Linked DNA regions of Homo sapiens. The protein of the gene in region 1 binds, or shares a complex with, the protein of each later gene. Each region holds a gene or a part of one and is shown in the gene's direction. Other genes may lie near its edges.

The links.
Region 2: the proteins of PDYN (region 1) and OPRK1 are in contact, whole or in part, in a cryo-EM structure (PDB 8F7W), measured with the Homo sapiens proteins. Residues at the interface, in NP_001177821.1 of Homo sapiens: Tyr207, Gly208, Gly209, Phe210, Leu211, Arg212, Arg213, Ile214; in NP_000903.2 of Homo sapiens: Thr111, Gln115, Trp124, Val134, Ile135, Asp138, Tyr139, Met142, Lys200, Glu209 (codon at 4,830), Cys210 (codon at 4,833), Asp216 (codon at 4,851), Tyr219 (codon at 4,860), Lys227 (codon at 4,884), Val230 (codon at 4,893), Phe293 (codon at 5,082), Ile294 (codon at 5,085), Glu297 (codon at 5,094), His304 (codon at 5,115), Ala308 (codon at 5,127), Leu309 (codon at 5,130), Tyr312 (codon at 5,139), Tyr313 (codon at 5,142), Ile316 (codon at 5,151), Tyr320 (codon at 5,163).

The regions. Positions count from the first base shown.
Region 1 is NC_000020.11:1,991,053-1,998,345, reverse strand, and holds the start of PDYN (proenkephalin-B preproprotein), read left to right. Parts: upstream 1-4,287; 5' UTR 4,288-4,435; intron 4,436-4,597; exon of another isoform or gene 4,598-4,659; intron 4,660-5,539; exon of another isoform or gene 5,540-5,702; 5' UTR 5,703-5,762; intron 5,763-7,293.
Region 2 is NC_000008.11:53,227,622-53,234,644, reverse strand, and holds part of OPRK1 (kappa-type opioid receptor), read left to right. Parts: intron 1-4,391; exon of another isoform or gene 4,392-4,815; coding exon 4,816-5,348; coding exon of another isoform or gene 5,349-5,435; 3' UTR 5,436-7,023. UniProt on the Homo sapiens protein: G-protein coupled opioid receptor that functions as a receptor for endogenous alpha-neoendorphins and dynorphins, but has low affinity for beta-endorphins.

The DNA.
Region 1 (7,293 bases):
AGCCATCTAGGAGAGAAGTGACAGCGACCGGGGGCCCAGGCGATAGAGTCAGAAGCAGTGAAGAGGAGGTGTCAGGGCAAGAGAAAGAGGGGAGTCAAGAGCAACTCCCCCACCATCCCACTCAACTCTTCTTGCTTGTAGGCCTTTGCCTAAGCTGTTCCCTCTGCCTGACATGCCCTTTCTTGCCCTCTGCCTGGAAAACTCCCACCTGTGCCTCAGTCTTCAGCTTCACGCTCACTTTCTCCAGGAAGCCTTCTCCCAACTCTTCAGCAGGCTGGTTGGGAGCCCCTTTTCTGTTCCCACAGTATTCCAGGTCTCCTAGCCCCTACTTGCCGTACTGCTGTGAGTGGCTGTTCCTATACCTGCCCCTCAACCTGGATTGTGAGGACAAAGAGGGCAAAGTTGTGTGTGGCATGTTAAGCCCTAAGGGCTCAGCACTGAGAATGGCACATTGGGATGTTTCAATACAGATATGTGGAAGAAAAGGAAGAGGAAGAGGAAGAAGAAGAGAAAGAGAGAGAGAGAGATGATGAGCACAGCTCCTCACTCCCTCTTGCAGCAGCGAGGCACAAACACGACGGCTGGGGCAGTGGGAGTCTCTCACGCGCTTGCCCACCCAGCCCCGGTGTGGACATCCACGCTGGACACACGGCAGCATGAAAAGTGATTTGGGAGACTTGATGCTGACCACAGGACCGGAACTTCATCCCACTGAGGTCCTCCTGAGTGATCCATGTTGCCTGCTGCCACTTTTCCAGGCTGACAGGTGAGTAGAGAACGCACACAGAGCTCGGAGCATGAAGCAGAACAGGGAGGAGAAGCCCAGGCGCAGCGCAGCTCATGGCTGGGGCACATGCCTGGAGTCGGATTGCCTGGGATCAGGCTGTGCTCTGCCACTTTCTACCTGTGTGCCTTTGTGCGAGTGACTTAACTTCTCCCAGCCTCTGTTTCCTTCTCTGTAAGGTGGGGGCAGGAATTGCATCTAATGGCAGAATGGTGGGGAGAATCAGGTGTTGATTTGTGTCAAGGGTTTACAATGGGGCCTGGTAGTAGACAGCCCTTCAGAAATGCTGGCTTTGTTTCTTAACTTTTCTGTCTTCCAGCCTGTGCTTCCTGAATCCTACCTAATGGAGTGATTTGAGGACTGGTTGTTTTAAATCTTTCCTTTTCTTTACTCTTTGCCTTTTGCCCACCTCGAGATCTGCAGTAGAAACTGGTCATGCACGGAGGGTGTGCAGGGAAGGGAGCATTCTAGAGCTTTGGAATGAGCCCTGACATCTGTATAAAAGCTAGCAGCATCCTCCTGTCTTCAGAATGACTCAGGTGCTCAGAGAGGCGAAGTATCCATCAGTTGTCACACAGTGAGGAAGCAGTGGCGTCGGGATCTAAGCTGAAGTGAGCCTGGCTGAGCCATGGTACCCACCCCCGGGACTGCTGCCCACAGGGCCAGCACCATGATTGGTGCATCACTGAGCCCAGGAGAGGGTGAGCTTTATGGCAAGGTTCTCCAGGACTAAGGGGGAAGGCTGCTCCTGGCCTTCTATGTGTGTGTGTGTGTGTGTGTGTGTGTGTGTGTGTGTAAAGGAGGCTGCGGAAGGAGAGGAAAGGCAAATGCAGGAACTATTTGCTCTTGAGGCAACAGTAGACTCAGGGGGTGAAGGATATCAGACATCAATGGCTTAATGAGGATTATCCATGAGTGTCTCTACTCTCACTGCCCCAACTTCCCTCTGGTGAATAACAGTCAGGAGAGGCCCCTGTCCTCTGCTCTTCCAGTGCTTGCTGACTTCCAGCCACGGGAGCCATTGTACTCCCTCTCTAAGAGTCTCTGTGTATTCGAAGGTTATTACCAAGAGCTTATAGAGGCAGAGGTTAGGAGGAGAAGGAGGAAATGAAAAATGAGGAAAGAGAGCAGTTGGAGTGAGGCTTTGGCCTTGGGGATGAAGTAGACGCTCACTCCTGGGCTCCCAGATTCCCAGGGTGGCAATGAATAGACTCCACTCATGTCCTCTGGCCACCATGCAAGAAGCCAGCCTGAGATGTGGCCAAGTGCTTGGTGACCCTGCGCACTGGCTATCACCAACTGGGCAGGGGCTTCCACATAGGGCACCAGGAGTCGCTTGCACCCGCCAGTCAGACCCCTTGTGCTGCCTCGGGAAGAGGAGACAGGGAGGAGAAGGAAAGTGAGGCTGTGGGTCCAGAGGGGAGTGTGGTGGGGCTGCAGCTTCAGGATCTGAGGGATGGGTCTCGGTTCTTCCTCCCTCCCTGGGTGGCTGGGGCCTCTCTGAACTTCTGCTGCCTTCTCCATCTGAGGACGCATTGTGAGATCCACACCACAGGTTTTCTTGTTGTGAGGATGTGATGGAATGTGGAAATGTCTGAGGCATAATAGGTGTTCAGCAAACAGCCCCTTCTACCCTCCTCCTTATGTGAGAGTTTAACGAGCCAGGTGCAGGGAGAGGAGGATGCCCAGGAGAACCTGCTGCATCAAAGCTGGAGGGATGTGGTTTATCAGGAATGATGGGAGCAGAACATCCGCTCCGTACTGGCTGCTTTAAGTGCTATTGACACATCCTCCTTTCACCCTCACAAGAGCCCAAGAGCCCCATGATACTGTTGTCCCCACTGTACAGATGAGCAATCAGAGGTTGAAGTTGGCAGCTTATCCAAGGTCTCTCCGATGGTGAGTGGCAGACCTGAGAGTCAAACTCACATCTTAAATGTCATTAAGCACAGCCTGTGTATGGAGAGGCTGAGTCCCAGAGAAGAAAACTGACCCCACCCCTCAGTGTGGGCAGATTCAAGCCTGGGGAGAGGCAAGGGAGGGGGCAGAAACTTGGAGGGTAGATGGACCTGACTTTAGGTTCTAGCTGGATGACTTACTTGCTGTGTGTCTCTAGGAACTTGGAGGGTAGATGGACCTGACTTTAGGTTCTAGCTGGATGACTTACTTGCTGTGTGTCTCTAGGAACTTGGAGGATAGATGGACCTGACTTTAGGTTCTAGCTGGATGACTTACTTGCTGTGTGTCTCTAGGAAAGTTTCTCAGCTCTCAAACCTCTGTTTTCTCATCTGCAAGATGGGGATAATATTAACCAACTGGCTAGGTCATGAGGATTAAATCTGACAACTCTACCTAACCGCCTGGTGCAGCCAGGTGCCCACAAAATGGGCGGCCCTGCCAGACTTCTGAAATAGTTGTGCCTCCCACCACAAACTGTCTGCTATTGACTGAGAAGAGAAGCATGTTCTCTTCCAAACTCAAAGACCCTTATGTTCTGGAAGATCTCTGTAGCAATGAAGAGTGCCACCTTCAAGCTGCTGCTGGTCCAGGCCAAGGGTATATTGAGGTGGGTCCATCCCTCACCCAGAGTGTGTGCTGAGGCATATTGCAGCCCATATTTTGAGGGGTTTTTCCTGCTATTCATTTTGTGTTGCCGCCAGAGAAAACTAAACTGCAGCTCCTGGCTGTCGGGGAAGAGCTGTGCTTCTGCCAGGGCTAGTGTGCCTGGCACCAGCTCAGGCATGTACCAGAGCCGAATGCCGTTTGCAGGCAAATGTACACACAAAAAGATTCCAGCACACGCGTGCACCAGCCAACACAGAGTTGCCACGGCACGCAACAGCGGGCCATGCACGTGCCTGCTGACTCGGCTGTCATCTTCCGACTCTCTTCCGTGATCAGAAGACTGTCTCAGCCTCTGTCTGTCTCCACGTCTGTCTGTCTGTGGATCAGTGTGTTTTGAGTCTGACAGTCTACCTGGCTGGTTTCCTTTTTTCTTGCTCTGTCCCTCTCTCCTTGTGTTTCTACCCATCTCCCTATCTCTGCCACTCTCTGTCTCTGTTTTTCTTTCTCTTTCTCCCCTCCTTTGTATCACTCCCTAGGTCCGACATTGCCTCTTTCTCGATTTCCGATTCTCTCTGAGTCTCTCTCTCTCTCTCTCTTTCTCTAACTCTTCTGTCTCTGTCCTTCCCTGTCTTCTTTTTCCTGTGACACTCTCCTGGAAACGCATCAAAAACTGAAGTGGCCGGATTTCAAGTGACAAACAGCACTACACCCAGAATCCGCCCCCTCCCCAACACGGCTGCCTTCCTCCTCCACATCCCTGTCACGAAGAGAAGCCTATTGTGTCAGGCCCAGGGAGTTCGAGTTGAAGGGCCTGGGGGTCTGTGCTCTGACTGCTCTCAGCCACTTCCCCATTGGCTCCCAGCAGCCTGTGCTCAGCAAGGGCTGAGCGACAGGGGAGGCTCTCGTCCATAAAAGGGGGGAAGAGGCACCAGAACTGCCATTTGAAGGGGCTTTGGTGGTGTTCACAGCTGCCTCTTTGGCACCTCCTCCCAAGCCGGAGTCAAGGAGGCCCCTGAGCCTTGGACCAGCCACTGCCACCTCCGACCTGCTCGGCCAGAAGCTGCCCAGGGACAAAGCAGAGTGCAGGTAACATCCAGAGGGGGCACTGGAATTCTATCGCTTGGTTTTATTTGCTTATTCCTGGTCCTCTGGACCTAGAGATGGTGGGAGCTCGGGCTGGGGATTTTAGGTTTGGGTCTGATTATCTAGCAAAGGTGGTTACAGTTAGGAGGCTAGTTCACAAAAGCCAGACCAGTGAGAGACTGCTCTTTGGACTCTCCCTTTCTGCACAGTCCTGGCTTAAACAGGTGGTAAGCTCTCTCCCAAGAGGACCACCCTTTGGCTTTAGCTCCAGGGTCTCCTTCTTGCAGTCTCCCACACAGCAGTTCCCATGCCATTCCCAGGGTCTGGGGAAAATGGGACACCCTGGATGGGAGAAGTGAGAGGTTTCACTAATCAGGGTGATTTTAAAGGTCAATGAGTCTCACTGGACTTAGAGAACAATGGCTTGAGGACATTAATGAGATCCAAGGCTCTGGCATTTATCACATAACATGTACATCAATGTACGGCCAGGTTCGGCCTTTTCATTCTTTTCGGATTGTGTTTAATTGCTGACAGGGTGCTGGTTTGAGCGGCTTCTTTTGATGGAATTTGATACAGGTTGAAGTTTGGGGATGTTTTGTTGGAAGGGAATGGGAAAAGGGAGTGACAACAAGCCAGGAGGCCCAGGCTTAGCAGGCATTTTCTTGTCCATTTTACTTGGAAAGGACTTGTTGCTCTCCTATTAACTACAGCCAGAGGAGTCTAAGGCCAGGAGGAGGCTCAAAGGGAAAGCCATTTGCTCACTGGTCCAGAGACCCATATTCAGAAAAGTACCAAGTCTCAAAGTTTGATTCTAGCAAAAAGCTGATGAGTTTCAGGAAAAAAAAAAAAAAAAAAAAAGCCTGCTGACTACTCCAAGGTTGAAGAGTAAATTCTGCAACTGCTTACTTTTTCCTGGGTATCAAGAATCCCTCCAAGCTCTACAAACATTACTTAATTAAGTCTCCAGTCTTCCCAGGGGAAACAAGCTCTTTCGATTATTGGATCTGATTTCAATTCCCCTCCCACAGACTGAAAGTCTTCATTATCATCTTTCTTCCAAGGGTTGCTGAAATATACAAGGCTTGCCTTTCTAATTTGACAGGCATCCCAGTCGAGATCCATTGCAAAGCATTGCAGAATGTCGATCCTCTTCTGTTCTTTCTCACCCCAGGCCTCACTCCCACCCCTCTGTGGCACCTTCCTTCTCTTTTCCCCTCCTCTTCTCCCCCCAGTCCCACCACACCTTGCCTTTGTTCTATTTTTGCAGGTCATTTATCTTCAGGCTTTGAGATCTGCGTGGGGGGAGCTGTTGCAGCAGCCCAAGCCGGTGAGTTATGCTGCCTGGGGGTGGTTTGCGTTCACTGACGGGATCTCAAGCCCACTGCTTTGCCCCAGCTGAGCTAGAGGTGTGATAGGTGGCAGGCAAACCCTATGCCTCTGTTGGCAGCTGGGAGGGGGATGTCACACTGGTTCCCAAGGCTATGTGGCGGAAGGCAGCACATTTTAAGGGAGCAGGCAAAGGGATCAGCTCTGGGGCTATTTGAGAGATTTGCGATCTTAAAACACGTGGAAGGAGTTAAGGTTTCTTGAAGTAACTCCTGGGAGGCAGGAATTTTCCATCTGTCATCTACACGTGTGTCTCACAACACCTGAAACAGTGCTGGGCTGAAATCCCAGATCCTACCACTCACTTACTGTGTGACTTTGGAACAGTAGAAGTCCCTCTCTGAGTCATACTTTCTTTACCTGTATGATGAGAATAATAATAATATTCACCTCCTAAGGTTATTGCAAGTCTCCAATGGGATATAGCAAAATGCCTGGCATTCAGTAGGTGCTCAATAAATACTGGCATGACTGCTCAGATTTTCACTGTTCCGAAGTGGTGAGGTTGGACCTTTCTCTCCATCGATTATCATATCGCTGATCATCCCACTCCATCATGCTGTGTGCTATGTCCAGGAGATATGATCTAATGTCTAATATTTTCATTTGAGGGGCTGGTGCTCCTTTCCCCTCCCCATCCCAGCAGAAGACTTTTTATTTCATCTGCTGCATCAGGATCATGAAGTCTCTTTTTGATCGATACTCCCTAAATCCACCTCCCACTACCCACCTCCTTGGGTCATTCCTGCACAATTGTCGTATTTATTAGATCTCTTCCATCATTGTAAGAGAGATCAATAGTTACTGGTTCGATTTCAATGCATGCCTGACAAAGTGTGGTTACACAGCTGATTTCTCTCACTGTATTCACTCATCTCAGCCCATGAATGTTGGCTAATCTTGCTGGGTCTGACAAAGTGATAAACCTGTTTCACTGAGACAGAGCTGGCCACTGTGGTAGGCAGTGAACATCGGCTGGAGACACCCAGGTAAGCCCCAGGATCAGACCCTCGAAATGGAGTGGGGTCTGTTAGTGCTGTGAAGCGCAGCCTCATCAGTCCCTCCCAGCCTGGATCCAGACTGATGCTCCTGGCAGGAGGACGATGGCCTAGGTCCATGAGGCACATGGCTTGGCTCAGGGGGCTCCTCCGAGTCCATCCAGGTCATCCCACTGGCCAGAGCGGCTGGCCACAAGCCGCAGACATATGCACCGAGGCAATTTGTTGATGCATTGGCTTGAACTGCCATTTGGTCCCTGTCCTATTCCTGGACGATTTGATTTAACTTGACAGCGGTTTACTGAGCAGTTATTATGTGGCAGGGTCTCTTGCCCACTGGTCCCTAGGAACAAAGGGCAGACTCAGAGAGCAGCAGGAGGGAGAGAATTGGTGTTTGTGATTCACACGGTATGTCAGCATCCTGAATCAAAATCTACTCTCCCTCCCCACTTCTCTCTCTCTTATTGTGTTCAC
Region 2 (7,023 bases), on another chromosome or scaffold:
GAAATGTAGTGCCTAAATCCATGGAAGATGAGAAGTAGAACAATTTTGTGTCCCTTTCCACCTCTAAACACAGAATGCAATAATGACATTGCCAGAAGAGAGATGCCCGACCTGTCTCCCATTCTGGCAATGTTTAGTAGAAAGTGGAGGGGTGAGGATGAGGTAAGAAACCACAGGCATGTGGAATTTTAAAGTACAACCTGGCAAGTCCAGGACACACCTTCTCACTCCTTTTTTTCTCTTTAACAAGGGATATAAATTATTGGTGACATATGCTGGTTCTTTCCTCTTTTATTCCTAAAGGATAACCTCCAAATCACTATTTTAACAGCTTTGGCTGTAGGCCATTCAAAATCAAGTTAACGGATGGTAGTTACAGATGAGCAGAACCACTTGATTTTGGACATATCAGGTTTTACCCCATGCAAACCAGCCAACTGATTTTTTTTTTTTTTTTTTTTTGAGAGAGAGTCTTGCTCTGTTGCCAGGCTAGAGTGCAGTGGCGCGATATCGGCTCACTGCAACCTCTGCCTCCCGGGTTCAACCTCAGCCTCTCGAGTAGCTGGGACTACTGGCACACACCACCATGCCCAGCTAATTTTTGTATTTTTAGTAGAGACAGGGTTTCACCGTGTTGGCCAGGGTGGTCTCAATCTCTTGACCTCGTGATCTGCCCGCCTCGGCCTCCCAAAGTGCTGGGATTACAGGCGTGAGCCACTGCGCCCGGCCCCCTGTTGATGTTTTTCCTGTATTTCTAGGACAGTAGTTCTCACTCTGGGCTGCACATTGGAATCACCTGGGTACTTTAGAAAACACTGCTGCCTGCATCCCACCCCTTAAGGGTCTGGTGTAATTGACCTGGGGTACAGCCTGGGTGTCAAGATTTTTGAGCTCTCTCCAGGTGACTCTGACCTGCAGCCAAGGTGAGAGGTACTGTTCTAGGAGTTTTGCTTTACTAGCAAAATATAAAGCTATAGAAAGCATCTTTGTTCCTCATAGAAATTAATGATGGGGAGGTGAGCAGAATAGTCACTCTGGGCCTACTCATGCTGTTTAATGCTCCAGCAGGTATATAAATGCTCCAGTTTACTAGGGGGTTCATAATACCTGTGAGAGCAGATAACTGAGTGTATATAGTGAGGATTTTCCAGGTCATAGTGAAAGGGCAAGGCACTAAAATCATAGCTTGTCTTGCATGATACATGGTTTGTTTGTTTTTAGACTTAATCTAGTTAGGTTTCAGTTTACAGTTTTAGGTTCACAGCAAAACTGACCAGAAAGCACAGAGAGGCACTTCCATTTACCTCCATTTACCCCACACAGGCACATCCTCCCCTACAGAGTGGTCCATTTATTACAGCTGCTGAACCCACACTGACACGTCGTTATCACTCAGAGCCTGGAGTTTACAGGAGGGCTCACTCTCCGGGTTATGTGTCCTGTGGATTTGAACAAATGTATAATGACTTTATTCATTGTTTTTTAATGAAGCTGATCTTTTCCCTCTGAAACTACAAAATGAATTTCTAGCATAGCCATAGCAGGTGTCAAGCTATACTACTAGGTAAATTTTAAGAAATGCCCAACTTTATCATATTTGCATTTCAAAATATGATTAATCACACATAGGATTTTGTTTCTTCATGCCTACAGCAAATAGAAATAAAGTGCAAGAAACTTTTCTGAGGCAAAGCTTTCACTTTGTGAACGTAAAATGTTGACTCTAATATTTTCCATACTGTAGTATATGTGTGTGTATTATGTGAGGATTCATAGTCTGCTCTTACTTTTTTATAGTAGCTAAGAATTATTATAATCGCTATAAGCAGAAACAATTATTCTTAACAAAATGAATACACACAAGAAAAGCTTTAGTTTAGCTATTAGAACTAACTCTATAATTATGACAACCATGAGATGCTGGAACAGGAGCCAGCAGAAGCCACAGCCCTCTGATATTAATATATAAAGAAACCAAAATCTGCTTGTTAAACTGAGGCAGTTGTATGGATACTTCAACCTGAAAATGCCCCCTTCTTCCTGAAACAGAACATTTAATAAAAATGGCATGCTTGGACAGGAATTTCTTTTTTAAAAAATGCTTAGTTTTTATGAATTCATAATAGATGTACATATTTAGGGGGTACCAGTGCTATTTTGATACAAGCATACAATGTGTAATGATCAAATTAGGGTAATTGGGATATTCATCACCTCAAGTATTTCTCATTTGTTTGTGTTAGGAACATTCCAATTTCACTCTTTTAGTTATTTTGAAATATATAATAAATTATTGTTAACTGTAGTCACCTTCTTGTGCTACTGAACATGATCCTTTTTCTTCTAAGCGTATTTCGTATGCATTAACCAACCCCTGTATATCCCCCTCCCCACAACCCTTCCCAGCCTCTGGTCACCTCTAGAGGTTCTACTCTCTATCTCTGTAAGTTCAGGTTTTTTTTTTTAACCTCCCAAATATGATGCTTGAGGACATGTGATATTTGTCTTTCTGTGCCTGGCTTGATCCCCTTAGCATAATGTGAAGTGCACTGGGATTCTTGATGATTGCCTCAGCACTCTCTTTACGCTACAAATTCAGCTTCATTGACATTTCTGGAGGATATTTCCAACTCTGTAGTGGGACGTTTGTTTCCCAAAGTCTTGTAAAGTAGCTGTTGTTAATTATTTCACCCAGTCATCTAATACTTACCATCTCCCACCACATGCAAGGCAGTTTGTTTGGGAGGAAGCTGAGCCTCGGAGTTAAAGGTCTATCCGAATTAAACAGCAGCCCTGTGCGGCTTCTGCTTAGCTTAGCTTAGCCGGTGACTTTTCCATAATAACTACTGTAATTAGGACACACTTTCGAGGGTTTGTTATTCATGTGGTATGTATTTGTTTGTTCATTTATTTAACAATTTATTCTGTTTATGCACCACATGTTCCAGGTACTACCCTAGGTGCCAGGGATTCAGTGTTGATTAAGGCAGGCTGGGTTTCTCCACTAAGGCAGTTCACATTCTGGATGGAGAGAAAAATGTTAGGAAGGTAACACACAATTACAGATCAGACAGGCTTCTGTCTGGGAAATTGGGTGAATATAACATGTAGACAAAGTGTAAGTTACCGAGGAGAGGACAATTTAAGAGACAGACCTCCATCTAAACGTCTCTGAAGTGACATATAAGCTGAGGTCAGCCACAGGAAACAACTAATGCTGAAAATAAAAGCTAAGCAGAAAAAAACAAACCAAACCATGGTCCCTACCTCCAAGGAAACTCTTCTACCAGATTCAACAAACAAGTCAAAACCCAGAATAGAATATTTATATTGAACTCAGATTTTTTTTTCATGTGTCACCCATCAAAAGTTGCTTAATGGATATCTTATATTCTATTATAATAGTAATGATTTAAAAATCATTTACCATAAACACTAAAGCAAAAGTTAATAGTCTTCATAGTAATATTACTTTGGACAATGACTTTTTTAAAAAATCAAAAATGACAAATTTCTCTGGAAGTGTTCATTTACTACTCCAAGGTTTCATCTGGTATTTCATTGATACATGAAGGTCTCTAAGATAGTCTTTATTAATTGTCAAAAATGTTTATATCCTTTTTATTTTAAAGTATATGTAATTAAAATTCTAGTAAGATTGGATATTCTATTAAGATTGCATTAAAATGTTTTAGAAAACATTAATAGAGCTGTTTTGCTATTTAAAAAAATATTCATGTGCTATTTTTGAAGCAGATTTTTCCAGTGTCAGAAAAAAATATTTTCATTACTGTAATCACGCTCATGGTGTTGCTCATGACTACCTTGTCTGTGAGGAAGGACCAGGGCAAAGAGAGCTCTGCTGTGTGCTCGCTGACTTCTCAGGGGCAGGGGTTGGAAATGTGGGCTAGCTGGTGTTTGGGGAAAGGTGAGCCCATGGGACACCCACAAAAATAGTTTAGAAGGTGTCCATCCTGAGTCCCTGGTCTTCCTAATATTAAGGCTACTCCAAAGAGAATACTACCCAGCAAAGAGAAGCAGAGCAAATATAGCAATTTTCTAAGTAATCACATACAAATATTTGTTTTATCTGAGCTACATAATAATGTTGGTAAAAATGAAAATAAATGTGCCTGATTTACTCAGAATTCCCTTGATGATGTTGATGATTCTCCCCCACCTCCTCCAAAGGTTTTACTTGTGTTTCAGTAATGCCCTTAATCACAATGAGTGTCATTGGTTCCATTAAATGACAATACTTGAGTCATATTTAAACAAATTCCATATCAATTTTTGTTGACCCACATAATGATTTCCTGTAAACCAGTTAATGTTTTTCAAACAAGTTGGCTTTTGTTAAATTCAGTGGCTAGATTTGAAATATTTAGTCATTTATTACAAATAGACATTAGCTTTTTTATTGCCAGAGCCTTAGGTCTGGGAGAAGTGTTAATGAATGGAAATAGAAATAAGTACTCATGGTATACATTAACTCTTTACCTCTTCTGCAAGCCATCAGTGTCAAACCAACTTCTGCAACTAGATGAGCAAGATTGTCAGCTAATCTTAATTCTACAGTATTGTGTATGTTACCAGTAAACAGTGACTATCATCATTGTTCCATGCACAAAGATTAGGATGGCTAACAAAATACAGTATTCATTAGTAATTTGGTGATCTACTTCAGGTAATGTCATCTTACCATAATTGGACCATTGCAATAAAAGGTATTAAAATTCATATTTAAAACACTTTGCAGCCACGGTAATAACAATAACAGGTTTCTGTGTTGTGGTTTTTATTGCCCTCCTCCAGACGTCGATGTCATTGAGTGCTCCTTGCAGTTCCCAGATGATGACTACTCCTGGTGGGACCTCTTCATGAAGATCTGCGTCTTCATCTTTGCCTTCGTGATCCCTGTCCTCATCATCATCGTCTGCTACACCCTGATGATCCTGCGTCTCAAGAGCGTCCGGCTCCTTTCTGGCTCCCGAGAGAAAGATCGCAACCTGCGTAGGATCACCAGACTGGTCCTGGTGGTGGTGGCAGTCTTCGTCGTCTGCTGGACTCCCATTCACATATTCATCCTGGTGGAGGCTCTGGGGAGCACCTCCCACAGCACAGCTGCTCTCTCCAGCTATTACTTCTGCATCGCCTTAGGCTATACCAACAGTAGCCTGAATCCCATTCTCTACGCCTTTCTTGATGAAAACTTCAAGCGGTGTTTCCGGGACTTCTGCTTTCCACTGAAGATGAGGATGGAGCGGCAGAGCACTAGCAGAGTCCGAAATACAGTTCAGGATCCTGCTTACCTGAGGGACATCGATGGGATGAATAAACCAGTATGACTAGTCGTGGAGATGTCTTCGTACAGTTCTTCGGGAAGAGAGGAGTTCAATGATCTAGGTTTAACTCAGATCACTACTGCAGTCTGACATGAAAAGATAGAATTTAAAATAAACTTTTAGAGATCTCATGGTCTGAAGTCATCAGATGCAGACCACGTTCGTGATCAGTGGAAACATCAAGGACAAAAGGTCCACGCAACACATGCACCTCTTCTCTAGGGCACAGAAGCGAGGCAGAGCCTCAGTTCCTCTGATGAACAAGGGAACAGGTCTTTTCCTTCTGGTTTGCTAGGTAAGGTTCAGCACCCATCTGCTGTGGCCTTCCTATGAAACGTAGTTTCAAAAGCTCGGTTTAAGAAAAAAGGAAAAGAAAAAACATTGCTTTCAGAGCTCAATGGGCATCCAATCCAGATGTTTCACAATGACAGCAACAACCTCCAACGGAATGGGAACTATTTCCAGGGTTCATGCCCAGCTCACTGTATGCTGTGTGGACATGCATTTCATGTGGCTGTGTGGTAAGAATTACAGCTTACATATGGCTTGGACCCACATCTGAGGAATCTGATGTTCACTTATACCAGAACATTATCTTGCTATTTATGAAATTATTTAAACGTTCAAAAGATTGTTTTTAACATGGTTTAATTTCCCAAAAACTACAGTTTTTTTTCTTAGCATGCTATTCAGGTAAACAGTCTTATAATAAAGCATGTCCCATTGTCAAGAAACATAAAGTGGTGTGAATACCACTGAAAATATATATATAGTATCTTCTGTAAATAATAGTACCTGTGTGAATAAGGAATAGGCTTGCCTCCCAGCCAGGCAATTTCCTGAGGGCACACTAATGATATCCCCTGAGTTGCTAAGTTGATGCTGAGACATTTTGCTGGGAATTAGTCATGGCATGATCTCTTTCAGACTCCCTGAATACCATTTAGTCCCGTAACAGTGCTCACAACTCATGTGCTAATGAATCACAAAGGCTTTAACTAGCTCCCAGGTTGTAGCCTTCGCAGGATCTAGTTTATTTGCCACATCTCTTTATGAACATATAGCGATTCGCAGATCTCTCTATTCACGGAGAGGAAGGTGTTTTGCTTCTGTAGATCTCAAGGTACTATTTTGTGGCTCTCAGCAGGAAGTAGAATTGTTCCTAAATGTGTGCTGAATGAGGACATGATGTCCCTCCTGGTGCCAGGACACATCCTGCATGGCATTCTGTGAAGGGCATACCTGCTGAGGATAATGCCAGGAGCAGCACATTTAGGGTAATTTTGCTAAAACTTCCAGATGACATATAAATTCCCTCTTTTTCCCCCTGAAACTTACCATTTCAGAGGTAATGGCTTTTTCTGTAATTTGCCTGAGAAGAAAAAAGGGATAATTTAGAAATAACACTCCAAGCCTATATATTACTAGGGCTGCATCCTCTGGAATTTAATAGAAAAATTGAATATATAGCCCTATGTAACTACAGACATCATTACAACTGTTAAGTTCTGTTCACCATGCAAGTTCTCGGTGGTGTATGTACTCTCACCTTTTGGAAACAAAACCTTGCATTGAAGGTTTTACACATGGCTTCAGAATGTTACTCTGACCATGTTTGCCTCTACTCCAGATTATCATGGCACCTAACACAGATGACATATGGCAGAATGGAAGTGAT